Linked DNA regions of Homo sapiens: region 2 is reported to be linked to region 1. The links are microRNA targets in miRTarBase. Many come from high-throughput screens and were not tested one by one. Region 1 holds a microRNA gene; the other region holds the end of a gene's coding sequence.
What was found. Region 1 holds the annotated microRNA hsa-miR-196a-3p (CGGCAACAAGAAACUGCCUGAG, at 2,544-2,565, shown strand). A microRNA usually pairs through its seed, bases 2 to 8, with sites in the 3' UTR of a target mRNA and lowers its output. Matches are read on the target gene's strand: a 7mer-m8 pairs with bases 2 to 8, a 7mer-A1 pairs with bases 2 to 7 and ends in A, and an 8mer does both.

Region 1 (7,114 bases):
CGCTGGAATTGGAGAAAGAATTTCTGTTCAATATGTATTTGACGCGAGAGCGCCGCCTGGAGATTAGCAAGACCATTAACCTTACAGACAGACAAGTCAAAATCTGGTTTCAAAATCGCAGAATGAAACTCAAGAAAATGAACCGAGAGAATCGGATCCGGGAACTGACCTCCAATTTTAATTTCACCTGAGAGCGCGGCCTCTCCTCCTCCCTTCCCGCTCCTTCCTCTCCCCGCCCCTCCTCCCTTTGTGCCTGGTGATATATTTTTTTTTCCTCCCTGAGTATAAATGCAATGCGACTGCAAAAAAGGCAAAGACCTCAGACTCTCCTTCCAAGGGACCTGTGGTTCGTGCTGCGAAGATGCTTCCACTTAAAGCATGAGAAATGGGGTGCCGGGATGTGGGGTGTGGTGTGTGCCCTCATAGATGGGGGTGGGAGTGTGGCTGGTGTGTGTGTCAAGCCCTCACTCACCCACGCACTCACACACAGCATTCTGTTCTCCATGCAAAGTTAAGATCGAATCCATCCGCTTGTAGGGGAAAAAAAGGAAAAAAATTAACCAGAGAGGGTCTGTAATCTCGCAGAGCACAGGCAGAATCGTTCCTTCCTTGCTGCATTTCCTCCTTAGACTAATAGACGTTTTGGAAAGTTCGGCTAGTGTTCGTGTGTTTGTCGTAGCACCCAGAGCCTCCACCAAACCCTCTCCATGTCTTTACCTCCCAGTCGCTCTAAGAATCTGCTTGAAGTCTCGTATTTGTACTGCTTTCTGCTTTTCTCCCACCCCTCCTAGCACCCCCACATCCCCCATCTAGTAACATCTCAGAAATTTCATCCAGAGGAACAAAAAAATTAAAAATAGAACATAGCAAAGCAAAGACAGAATGCCCCCCCCCCCAAATATTGTCCTGTCCCTGTCTGGGAGTTGTGTTATTTAAAGATATTCTGTATGTTGTATCTTTTGCATGTAGCTTCCTTAATGGAGAAAAAAAAACCTAATAAATTTCCAGAATCATAATCCTCAAATGGATGGTTTTTTGTTTTTAGTGATTTTTAGCAACACCCCTCCCCCGAAGAGGCTGAGTGTGTGGATGTGTGTGTTTTGTGTTTGACTCATCTCCTAGAGCCTTTCTAGAACGTCTCTTGGCGGGTTTAATGTAAGTGAGAGACCATAACGTTGATTTAAATATTATCCAGGTGACCACAATAAGTCAAGGTCATAAAACAGTAATGTCAGGACGGTCTTGGTGCGCGCGAGAGGTGGATTTTATGATCTGCAAATATAATGTGGTGCTGCAGTAAAAGATGCATTTAAAGGTGACTGGAGGAGGGAAAGAGGCAGAGAGCAAGCTGCAATCTTGAGGAGCAGACGGATCTGATTGCCTGGGGTGCTGGGCTGGGCGCACCCCACTGCTGCTGGGGGTCACCCCAAGAGCCCCCCACCCATCCAAGGAAAGGAATAAACTTAACCGCTGGAGGGGCATGAGGAGCTCAGCCCCCCCAACCTCGACAGCAGCTAACAGAAACGCCAGGAGCAGCAGGAGGAGGAGGCAGCGACAAGGTAAGAGAAGCGGTTTCTTGTTCTTCTCTTGGCGGCGGAGTGGGGATGAGCGGTGTCCCCAGGTGTCCGGCGTGCAGCGGACAGAGCCTGGAGGAAGGTGTTTAGGGCATCCGTGCTTGCCGAGAACCCAGGCTTTCCTAGTGGCCGCTGGCAGCGGAGGGCAGCGACTGGGAGCTCCCTCTCCTTCCCTCCCGGGCCCATTGCCATGGGGGTTCCACAGTTAAAGGGATAAATTGATGGTTTTTGGCTTCTTTATCTTTTCGGGCACTTTGGGTCTCCTCGAAGTCGACACTCTGGTCTAGGTGTTGCTCAGTCTGGTCGTCTGTTGGTGGGGGAGGAGGAGTACAGAGGGTTGAAGCTTGAAGCTTAGGTTTTCCTGCTTTTCGCTGGTTTGGATGTGAGCCTCGTCCAGCCTCTTGTTCCCTGTGCTCCCTGGCTGTAACGTTTTGCCAGGCAAGTGGCCTGATTGGAAGTGGCTCCAGAGCACAGGGCTATGATTCAGCTACCCACATTCGCTGAGAAGCCTAAACCGAGCTGAGAGGGAGAGGATCAGAGGGAGTCTAGCAGGAGAGTGCAGGAGAGCCAGATGGACAAGACAGGGGACCCAGCTCCAGAGTGGAAGGAAGATCCAGCTTCCCCCAGGGCCAGGGCCAGATGCAGGGGAATAGCTCCACTGCGGTGCTGGGGGTGGGGCAGGTATTTGGCCGCCAGTGGTCCCATTTCACCAGATTTTTCCTGAGCAATTTGCTTAGACCAGAAACTAATGAAGGCAGTCAGACCCCTTACCCACCCAGCAACCCAAAGTCTACTCTCTAGTCCTTAGGGAGGTTGTGGGGGCGGAAAGGGGGACGGGGCTGAATTTCTTCCTTCCCCAACCCCCTTCCCTTCTCCTCCAGATAGATGCAAAGCTGAATCTCCCGCCCTGCTCGCTCAGCTGATCTGTGGCTTAGGTAGTTTCATGTTGTTGGGATTGAGTTTTGAACTCGGCAACAAGAAACTGCCTGAGTTACATCAGTCGGTTTTCGTCGAGGGCCCCAACCCACCTCTCCCACTCCTACCCTCCCCAGTGGGACTGCCCCACTGCCCCCTCCCAGATAGGGCAAAGTGGGTGCAGACCAAGGAGGACAAGCTGTGAGTGGGGTTGCAGAACAAGTCTGGAGAACCCTGCTTTATGCCGTCCTCTCAACCTATCCCAATCCCTGTGATTAAGGGAGAGGAGTCTTTCCTGCAGCTATTGTCTCCTGGGCCCAGCTGATGGAGACAGACAAAGAGGGTCCAGCCAATTCCAAGGAAATTCAGGAGTTTGAGTAAGAGGTGGCCTGGCGGGCCAGCTCAGTTGGGCAGCAGGGTGGGGCAGAATTATTAGCAGAAAGAGGAGCACAGAAAGAGAAGACGGTCTCTGGAATGGTTAGCCTCTCCCACCTACCACCTCCAGTCGACTGGGGCTCAAGATTCTCCTTAGAAAAGTGGGGTACCTGGAGGTTCCAAGAGTTGGGGAACTCTGAGCGCCAGCCCAGCCCTTTCCCCTTCCCCTTCTATAGCTCCATCTCCAGGGGAAGGACATGTTTGGGGTGTTGGTAGGTTAGAGGAAAGCCATCAAAGTCCAAGTAGAACCCCTCACACACGCACACGCACGCAACTGGGAAACATCAGGGCAAAAACCTGACTCTGGTCTCTGTTTAGTCGTCTGTGGCCTGAAGGCCTCAGTTTCTGTGGCTGTGACTGTCAGGCAGCTGCCTGTCTTTGCACTATGTGGAAACATCTGGGTGAACAGAGGCTGCCCGTGCCCACCATTGCTATGTTGGTGGAAAGGTTGTTGGCTGATGCCAGGGGGAGGAGGGGAGGAGAATGGGGTAGAGGAAAATCTGAGCAGTGTGAAACTTTGCAAAGCTTCCTCTCATCCTTTCCCCCTTGGTTCTTCAATTCTGGCCCTGGTTGCTACAGAGAAAGTTCTCAAAAGAGGTTTCTTTGCCTGCCTGCGGGCGGAGTTGGGGGGGGGGGAATAAATGGGGGAGGGGTTATGGAGACTGAGGAGATACACCCCTGTTCTCAGAGATACTGGGGAAGAGAAGCCAAAAGAAGGTCAGGTTCTTGGTTCTCTTACTTTGAAATTATTATGATTATTAAAACATTATAAACGTCTAGACAGGGAAACAAAATTATGTCCCTGTAACAAAATATATACAGAGTTCTATATTCTCACAGTCATCTGCTGGGAGGGATATATGTGACCTTGTATGAGTGTAGGGCTCTGTTTCTGTCTCCCCTAGGCTCTCTTAAATACCCTGTATGTATTTATACGCATACACATTTATTTTTCCCCTCTCTTATGCGAACATATTTGTTTTGACTCCCAAGGAAGCTGGAGGAGAAAATGGGAATAGAATTTCCTGTCTCCCTAGCTGGATTGTTGGTCTGTCTGTCCCCCATCCCTTTGTGAGAGAAAAAATTTCTTCTCTTGGAGAGAAGTATTCAAACCTCTCTATGGCTCCCAGGGAAATGGGGAAGTTTCCAGAGAGTCAGGCCAGCTGGTGGGAAGCAGGCAAGGGATTCCCCTAGTTTGGGAGCTCCTAGCAGCCTTTGAGTCTTCAGGCTGCCCCAGGCACACAGTCAGTTGGGGCAAAGCGTGTCCCAGGCAGGGACTGGGTGCTCAGGAGCATTTGGCTTGGAGATAGAGTCCCTGATGGGCCGAAATTCACTAATGAACGACTTCTGTGCTTTGGGTCTCTGTGCCCCCATTTCCGTTTCAGAGCTGTTGGGCTTATGTGTGGGAGGTCAGAGAGCCAGGGGTTGAGGTGTCTCCTCCCCAAATGCAGAGAAATGGAGCGAGGTCTCATAGGGCCAAGGTGAGGACCAGTCTGGTGGTCAGAGTCCACCCCCGGCACAAGGCCGTGGATCATGGCTAAGGCGATGGTAATTATTTATTCCCTTCGCCGGAAGGGAGTCTTCAGAAGGAACAGCGTGAAGAGAAGAGAAAAAATTATCTCTCTCGTCTGTGGATATTAAGATGGATTTTTATTTCTTAAAGGACCCTCCCCGCCGAGAGCGCATAAGCGTAAACTTAATATATGCTCCGCAGCCCAACTCCAGAAATCGCAATAAAAGTTAAAACCTCCCCTACTGTTTTTTTTTTAATTATGATATGGGAAAGAGGAGCAGGATTTATAGAGCTGAACTCTCAGTGTATGAATGTTTGAGACTTGCGGGAGGAAGAAAAGGCAAGAGCTCGCCAAGGCGAGCCTTGGTCTCTGAGATCTCTCGTCGGCTGCTGGGGCTCCGGCTCAGCCTGGCAGATCCGCTGTGGCCTCTCTGGGACCTCGCCCCGGCCCACGGCCTGACTTCGGCTCGGAGATGCAGCCCTTCCCGAGAACAGGTGAAGAAGACGGCGGCAGCGGGGACTGGGGGCTTCGGGTGGGAACGCCAGGGCTCAGGGCTTTGTGTGGGTCGTGCAGGGGGCGAGGTTCGAAGTCCTGGGCTGGACCGCAGCACGAGTGTGGCCCGGACGGCTGCGTGGCCAGAAGGGGTGTTCGGGCAGGGTGCGAGAGCACCGGCAAGGTGGATTGTGTATGGACTTTGGCCGCAGACAGAGCAGAGCGGGCTCCCGGGCTGTGGCCGGCGGCGAGGCGGGCAACCGCATGTTGAGTCTATAGAAAGGACCTTGAGGTCTGCTGGGTGTTTGGGCTGCCCTGGGGGCGGCGGCCCAGAGTGTGGAGCAAGCGGCGCGCGGGGCGCGGCGGTCAGCGTGGGAGAGGCTGCAGGCCCTGCACGCCTCTGCAGCTGCCGGGCCGTGTCCGGGACGTCTGAACTGAGGCCGACCAATGGTCACAGCATGAAAAATAAATGCAATGGAAGGTCTTTCTGTCTTTTCTTTTCCGCGTAAAAGGTCCTTTCTTTTTTCTCTCTTTCGGATATACCTGGATTTGGTCCAGACCAGGTTGCCCGCGGGAGGGCCCCGCGAGCGGCAGCGCGCGAGGGAGGGAGAGAGAGGGAGGGCGAGAAGGAGGGAGGGAGGGAAGGAGGGCGGGCGGCGGCGGCCGTGGTGGCCGGGGCTTCCCTCCCCAGGCGGGAGCCGCCTGTCCTGTATCTATGGCCGTGGGGAGCGAAGGACCAGGTAACGAAGGCGCTTCCGAAGCGGGATTGGACCAAACCAGAGGGACAGAGTCTTCTGGGTCTCTCTGCCTGAGGCCCTGGAGGGAGAGAAGGTAGGGAGATCGGCGCCCGCCGGGCCTGGCAAAGAGGCCTCGGGAAATGTTGAACCTGTATGTGATCTCAGGCTCACACTCATGTTGTGGGTCTGTCTGCCTCAGGAGATGCGGTTTGCCTTTCTGTCTGAGACGCCCCAAACCCTGAGCTCTCCTTCCCAAGGCTGGAAAAAAAATCGGGAAAAACGGCGGAATTTGCACTTTCATTCATTGGGTTATCTGCAACTGAGAGGGGCTGGTTAAGGCGTCCCCAAGTTGGAAGGGCGCTTTGCTTCTGTTTTCTGGATGCAGAGTCCTCTGACTCCCTCTGCCACGGGCTGAGTTTCCGGCTCCAGGTTCGCGTGTCGCCCTGAGGTTTGAGGCCAGACAGCTCGCAGTCGGGCAGGGAGGGCGGGGGAGAGACGAGCGGCTCTGGCCCCTTAATTGTACTTCGGGCTCGTATTGTCTCTCCTTTCGCCACCTCCGCTTCCTCAGTCTGGGCTCCAAAGTCACTGCAAATTTCCTTGCGACACATACATCACACAAAAGATCAGGTAACAAGGCGCTCAGGGCCACTGGGGCTCCGGGCAGGGCAGGGAGCGGCTCTAGCTCTGGGGCGGCTCCCCCTCCAGCCACTCCCAGGCTGGAAAACCAGACCGCGTTGGGGGAGCCGGAAATAGCCCCGCTTGCTGCGGAGCGTCAGGGCGGGGGCGCCGGCGGGAATGCAGGCCCGGCAGGCCGTGGCTTTGAGAGAGCCACGTTCACAGGCCCTGGGGATTTCACTCCTGCTGGGCCTCGGGACCTGACTCCTGGTGTGTAGGGATCCCAGATACCCACCTTGGGTGGGGGCAGGACGCGGGTTTCCTCGCGGCAGGCCAAGAGAACTCAGTTTCTGCTTCCAGCGCAGGCCTTAGCTAGGAGGAGTTGTGTGTGGGTGTGTTTTTCCCAACAAAGAGGGATCAGGAGAGAGAAGGGGGGAAAGTAGAGGGGAACCAGGGAGGGGGCGGGGAGGGGAAGAGGGCAGTGGAGAGGTGAAATGAGCCCATTTCAGGGGGAGAAGGAAAATGAAAGCAAATGGAGTACGGCCTTCTCCGCGCAGGGCGGGTGCTGACGAGCCGGGAGCGGGCTCCCTGCCTGCGGCAGCCGGGATGGCCCGCTGGGGACACCGGAGAAAGCCTGTTTTAAATTTAATCCGAACTTGACGGTGTGGATTGAACCGGAGGGAATTTAAATCACTAAAAGGAAGGCGCGGGGCAGGGGGAGGGGACGACTCTAACCTGTCTATCTTTCTGTCTGTCCTTCCCACGGTGCTAGTTTGGTTGTGGCCGCAGCTGCCCAGGTTTCAGGTGATGGAGTAAGGGTGCCCCTCCCCCT
Region 2 (7,114 bases), not on the chromosome of region 1:
AGGCATTAAGCCACACTCCTACATGAGTACCACTCTCCTAAAGCTTCTTGCAGATCATTTTTAATAAGCAATGCTATTTATAGTAACATGTAATGGGTTATTTTATAGTAACTTAAGATGTTCTTAGTTTTAATTTCTGATATGATAAACATCCATATATAGCCCACATAAAAGATTCCTGGGGTTCTCAATAATTTTTAAGAGTGTAAAAGGGACCTGAGACAAAGTTTGAGAACTGGTTTAAGACTTAAAATTTAATAAACACCTGCCTTTTGCCGTGTAAAAAACCCCAAATCTTTTCCTAAAATCTCTCCCATTATCCCTTAAGTCCTTGTCTTGTTTATTACAATATCTGCAGCATCAGTCAGACAAACGAATACAAAAGACCAGTAAGTGGTGACTGTAATACACTTCTATAGCTAAATCTATAAGCCAAAATATAAGGCAGAGTAGGTAGGATGAGCATCCAACTTGGAAGTTAGTAAGAAATGGTGGCAAAACTTTAAGGTAACTGGCAGAAAAAACCATGTAAGACATTTAAAGGTATATGCAAAAATTGTTCTCTTTAACTAACTATGTCCTCTCATTTTTTTCCCAGAGATTCCTTCAGTCGAATGAGCCTTCGCAAAATGGATCTCTAAACTGAATGCACTTGTTTTATTCATCTGCAAAGAGCCATGTATTCAACATCGAGTGTGAAAAGATCTATTGGAAAACAACATGGAATGGAATTCTGGAAATTATTATTCATTGAAGAATGCAGTGGCCAAGAAAATATCAAATGTAGATTGTTAACGCTTGAGAATCATGGCTATGGTTTCTAATGTTCTGGTAACAAGCTGTTATCTTTTAAGACATTTTAATGACTCAAAGGTACACTATACATTTACCATTATTTATACCATAGCTAAGGTTAAAAATTTATTCACTTTAAGTTCGTATTTTTTAATTTATATTACCATTTATAGATTCATTTTGGAACCATTTTAAATGTAGTAATGCTTATTTTAAAGGTACTATTAAATATGTGAATGTTTACACTAATTTTACCGAGTGGGACTTCAAAATTTTTATTATTGACAATGGCAGAGAACAATTAAAGGGTTGACTCAAGAACTAGTTCCAAACCTAGCAGAATAAAAATCATAGATAGCCCCAAATTAATGAGTTTGGTAACTGTTTCAAAGTTATTTTCCATTTACATACCCAAAACAGGAATTTAGAATTGCAGAACTTTACTTAGTAAAACCTTTGTGTAAAATAATTTAAATACGGGGATAACTAATACCAGTGACAACACCTTAACTTGATTAAATCTTATTACACCAATGATAGTAGTAAGAACTTCATGATTCTTAGCAACTAAAATGAATGATTTCTCTGTTTCAAATTAAAACCAGCCATCAGTTTTTGACGATGTAAACCAGTAAATTAGAATCTACTTAAAGCTATCTTGTAGCACCATGAAGGTAACACAGCTGGAGTTTGAGAAATTACCTATTTTCTGACACTTGTAAAGTTTAGAAGCATATAAAAAGTAAAATTAGGTGCTTTAATTCATCTAAAATTATATGCAAGTCATACAGAAAAAAAATTTGAGAAGTAACATTTTAATTCTTGGCAAGTTTTTCCAAAACGATGCATAGTAATGATTTCCAGAACAGTTTAGAACAATGGTTTTTGGGTAGTAGTGCAGTTTACAGAATGGCATCATTTATAATCCTTTTCTTCTACTGACCAGTTACATGAATCACTTAAGAACTAACCAGATCTGGGTGCGGTGGCTCACATCTGTAATCCCAACACTTTGGGAGGCCGAGGCGGGTGGATCACGAAGTCAGGAGTTCAAGACCAGCCTGGCCAAGATGGTGAAAACCCGTCTCTACTAAAAATACAGAAATTAATTAGCCAGGCACAGTGGCAGGAGCCTGTAATCCCAGCTACTTGGGAGACTGAAGCAGGAGAATCGCTTGAACCCGGGCAGCAGAGGTTGGAGTGAGCAGAGATGGAGCCACTGCAACTCTAGCCTGGGCGACAGAGACTCCGTCTCAAAAAAAAAAAAAAAAAAAAAACTATCATCTGTACACACACGCACACACACATACATACATACACACACATATATATAAAAGAACTGATCAGATTGGCTGGGTGCAGTGGCTCAGGCCTATAATCCCAGCACTCTGGGAGGCAGGGGCAGGCGGATCATGAGGCCAGGAGTTCAAGAACAGCCTGGTCAATATGGTGAAACCCCATCTCTACCAAAAACACAAAAATCAGCCAGGTGTAGTAGCCCGTGCCTGTAATCCGAACTACTTGGGTGGCTGAGGCATGAGAATCACTGGAACCTGGAAAGTGGAGGTTGCAGCGAGCCAAAATGGCGCCACTGCACTTCAGCCTGGGCGACAGAGCAAGACTCTTAAGTCAAAAACAAAAACCAGCACTTTGGGAGGCCGAGGCAGACAGATCACGAGGTCAGGAGATTGAGACCATCCTGGCTAACAGTCAAACCCCGTCTCTACTAAAAATACAAAAAATTAGCCAGGCGAGGGGGCAGGAGCCTGTAGTCCCAGCTACTCGGGAGGCTGAGGCAGGAGAATGGCGTGAACCCGGGAGGCGGAGCTTGCAGTGAGCTGAGATCACGCCACTGCACTCCAGCCTGGGTGACAGAGCTAGACTCCGTTTCAAAAAAAAAAAACAAAAACTGGTCAGATTTAACGTATTGCCTTCATTCTATAGTCAATGTAGTAAATATTCAAAATATACTAAAAAATATCTACTTCTGAGAGCCTAAGTGATGGTTGATATCCCACACTCCATGTACTTTAATGGGCAGTATCATCTCAAATTCCTCTTATCTATATCAATTCAAAGACTGAATCACAAAAACATTTTTCAGATGAGTCTACATTGTTAGACCAAATCTGAGTCAGAAGGGCATAACCTCAAAACTCTATTTGAGGAGCCAAATGAACAATAAGGAAAGGTAAGGAGTCAAGAATGGAAATCCCTCCCCTCCAAAAAAAGTGACATTTTCCCTTCTTCTTTGGGGGTCAGTGGTGGGTATAAACATAAGGGAGAGAATAAGGAACCACTGAAGGGTCACTTCTCATTAGGTTACATTTATATAACAGTTTGGACAAAAATCTCAGAAATCTCAGTAATATCAAGGACTTTATGATTTATATAATTATGCAAAACCAATTATTTTCTGACATCCTTCAGAACAGAGGCTTCCTCTTAAACATTCGTATGATACAAACCTCTTACAAACTTCATTTTTCTTAAAATGGAACTTTCTCACATCAGGAATTTGTGTTAGTTCTTAGAACTGGCTGTCTCTCGAGTATTAAGAGGCCCAGTGTCTATCTTAGACCCATTCCATTCAAAACTTACAGGTAGCGCTCAGGACTGTTTAAGGATTTCCATTAGTGATTCTGAAAGGTGGGGAGAACCATGACTTTATTACCATCTCATCATCCTATGAAAGAATATAAGACATTATGTAACTGTGTTTTTTTTTTTTTGAGACGGAGTCTCACTCTGTTGCCCAGGCTGGAGTGCAGTGGCGCAATCTCGGCTCACTGCAAGCTCCGCCTCCTGGGTTCATGCCATTCTCCTGCCTCCGCCTCCTGAGTAGCTGGGACTACAGATGCCTGCCACCACGCCCGGCTAATTTTTTGTATTTTTAGTAGAGACGGGATTTCATGTGTTAGCCAGGATGATCTCGATCTCCTGACCTCGTGATCCACCAGCCTCAGCCTCCCAATGTGCTGGGATTACAGGCGTGAGCCACCGCGCCCAGCCTACTGCGATTTTTTTTTAATTGAGAAGGTACTCCTTGTTGAAATGGGGTATTAAAGTGTTACCCCAATAGCATTTACATATTTAGAATCATTTCTAGGAAAAACTTAGTACCAAGAATGTCCATTAACAAGTCATGAAATCATTCATCACTTACCACTTCAGTATACTAGTTTAAAATGAAATTTTAACCAAGTTTTTATGTGTGCCCAAAGCATCATCTTAACTTTTCCAGTTTTGGATTCCATTAAATCATGTCTACTTTAAAGGACAATTAGATGCAACAGATTTCATTATAAACCTCTTTTAAGTATGACAGCTTGGCTGGACTAAGCACAATTTCTCCTCTTTGAAAAACTCCTGCACTGTCAGAAAGTATTCAGTAATAAAGGTAATTATGCATGCTTATTCTCTCATATATATACATATATATATACACACACTTATTCGCTTTAAGAAAACTCAGCTGTATTTATAAAAATATACAAGTAAAAAATTCAAATATTCATATACATAGTTAAGCAGTTTAAATTTTATTGACCTCCCAGTTTTTAAAAAAAGTTAAATTTAAGGTCACACCTCTAAGTTTGATGTACTATATACAGATCGTGCAGAATATGAGTTAAACAGATACAAATTAGTCCATGCCCAAAAAGATATACTAGGGTACAGAATCATCTTCATAAATACATATAAAATTCTTGTGTAGAAGCGAACTGTCCAGGTTTTCTGAGACACTTCTAAGTGAATCAAGGCACAAAATGTACATACACCATTGTGAATACACACATTCTAGACTTTGTGCCTCTGACATAGCCCAAGGATTTAGCTTCATGACTCTTATAAAACTAAATGTACTGAATGAGATTCTGCTTCTTGGGTGAAAAACCACAGGAACTATAAACATCATGTAGATAATTACTCCAAAATATGGAGAATACAAATACGAGCACTTTATTTTAAAAAGCAAACACAAAAGACTGGTGTAAATCCAAGTGTTTAAATGCCTCCGTTTTGGATAATTTAATTAAGAACCGATACAAGTTTGTTCCCAGAAGCTAATGCATCACTAGTCTCTACTGAGGAAAATGAGTTCTAAAAATTAACATGGTTTTCAGTAATTCAAATTTCACTATTTATATAAAAACCTAGAGAGACCAATAATATCCAGTAGCTTCAAAAGATAAGCTAAAGATTCTTTGATGTAATCAACTTTACCAATGTTTGTATGGGTGTGTTTAATATATACACAAGGAAAATACACTCACTCTATAATTTCTTATAAAATAGCAAGTAAGGAGTAGAAGTAGGAGATGTAGAAGGGGAAAGAGAATTCAGAAAGTCCTTCTCTTCAGTAACTTTGACTTCAGAATCATCAAAAAGCAACCACTTCCCCTCATACTCCTTTAAGCTTTGCACTACGTATGAAATTTTGTTCTCAAATCCACTAATATTAATGCCTGTTTGGTCACTGGATTCCTTGTTTCTATCAGATTCATGGGTCCCAGTAGTATCACTAGTCTCAGAATTTCTATTTTCAGCAAACGCTGTACTAGCAACCTTATCAGGATTAGAGGCTTTGTTGTATAGCTCATAATCTGCTTTGCTCTTTTGTCCTCCAAGAAGTCCAATAGCTTCTACATTTTTTTTGTTCAAAACTTTACTTGGCTGTGTATTTCCACCAACTCTAATTGACACTTCTTCATCATTATAATTCTCAACCACACCCCTTGCTTCCTCCTCATTCAATGGTTCTGGCTTACCTATTTCACACATTTGGTCAACCACAAAATTTCCTTTATCTAGTTCTAAACTGTTAAGGTCAGTGACTTTAACAGAAGCAGTGTAATGCCCACTACTAATTGTAATGCCACTATGCATCACAACCGCAAATAATCCATAGCTGTCGTTAGTTGGCTTTGTGCTCCATTCTTCTAGTGACAATTTAAGAGGTGTCAATAAAGGAGTGTTGATCTTGGAAAGTCCACCACCATAACAATCAAACCTTTGGGAGGAAAAAAAGAAAAGGTTTCCTGCAGTTCTATTTTAAATTCAAAATGTTATACCCCAATCTGAAACCAAGTAAAAATCTGAATGAACCCTTAATATCCAGTGTTCATATATCAGAAAAGCAGAATCAAAACAAGACCCCAACTTTGAATAATATTTATAATATATGCAGAAACAAAAAAATAAATAACTGCTAATATTCAGGCATTTCTGTGGAAGAAATAATTGTATTTTTTCCTTTATTTTCCTAATTTTGTGCAGTTAAGAAAATAAATGGTATTTTAAATAGACTGAACCGGAACCAAAAATGTTACGTTTTGGGTTTTTTTTTTTTTAAGGCAGGGTCTGTCACCCAGGCTGACTGCAGTGGTGCAATCATGGCTCCTTCTGGACTCAAGTGATCCTCCCACCTCAGGCTCCTCCTCCTCAGCCTCCTGAGTAGTTGGGACCACAAGTGCCCGCCACCACGCCAAACTAGTTTGTGTATTTTTTGTAGAGATAGGGTTTTGTCATGTTGCCCAGGCTGGTCTTGAACTCCTGGGTGCAAGCCATCCATCTCAGCCTCCCAAAGTGCTAGGATTACAGGTGTGAGCCACCCACGCCCAGCCCATTTTAGTCATTTTTAGTGTGAAGTTTTTCTCTACCAAAATTTGGGAAAGTAAATAAAATAGTATTTTATACTATTAGCAAAGGGAAGGTCCACTGAATAAGGGGCTATATGTTATCTTTTGACATAATCAAGTGTGAGAGAGCTACTGTGAAGCCCTCGTGGTAATTTCAAACAAGCAACTAATGTACAAAGGAGTCACACATACAATGACATTACACATGTCAGAAAAAAACAGACTATCCAAAACAATCAGCATTTTTTTTCAAACTGTTGAAAGACTAGTTTGATTTCCTGGCTTACCTTAAAACTAGGAAGAATTTAGCCTTTCCCGCCCCTTCAAAAAAATCTTGATGTATACAAAATTTGTTCCCTGCTTTAGTCAGTTCTACTGAATTCTGCTACTAACATCTAAGAGGGAATGAATATGAAAAGATGAATAAAGAAACTGGCCGGGCATGGTGGCTCACGCCTGTAATCCCAGCACTTTGTGAGGCTAAGGCAGGTGGATTGCTTGAGTCCAGAAGTTCAAGATCAGACTGGGCAACATGGTGAAATCCTGTCTCTACTAAAAATACAAAAAATTAGCTGGGCATGGTGGCATGCACCTGTAGTCCCAGCTACTCAGAAGGCTGAGGTGGGAGAACCACCTGAGCCTGGGAGGTCAAGACTGCAGTGAGCTGAGGCTGTGCC

Region 2: the mRNA of DOCK7 is a reported target of hsa-miR-196a-3p. The part of its 3' UTR that is shown has no 7-base or 8-base seed match.

Annotation. Positions count from the first base shown.
Region 1 is chr12:53,989,256-53,996,369 of GRCh38, forward strand. MIR196A2 (microRNA 196a-2) reads left to right here and starts at 2,483; the gene lies at 2,483-2,592. HOXC10 (homeobox C10) reads left to right here. Exons shown (of 2, transcript NM_017409.4): 2 at 1-1,024. The coding sequence ends at 191. It overlaps HOXC-AS2 (HOXC cluster antisense RNA 2), which reads right to left. Exons shown (of 3, transcript NR_047505.1): 2 at 6,578-6,654; 3 at 5,953-6,263. RefSeq lists an enhancer at 5,962-6,530.
Region 2 is chr1:62,448,941-62,456,054 of GRCh38, reverse strand. It overlaps DOCK7 (dedicator of cytokinesis 7), which reads left to right. Exons shown (of 50, transcript NM_001367561.1): 50 at 599-1,329. The coding sequence ends at 641. USP1 (ubiquitin specific peptidase 1) reads right to left here. Exons shown (of 9, transcript NM_003368.5): 9 at 4,251-5,809. The coding sequence ends at 5,074. Among named protein-coding and RNA genes, the nearest start is that of USP1, 15 kb to the right of the region's middle.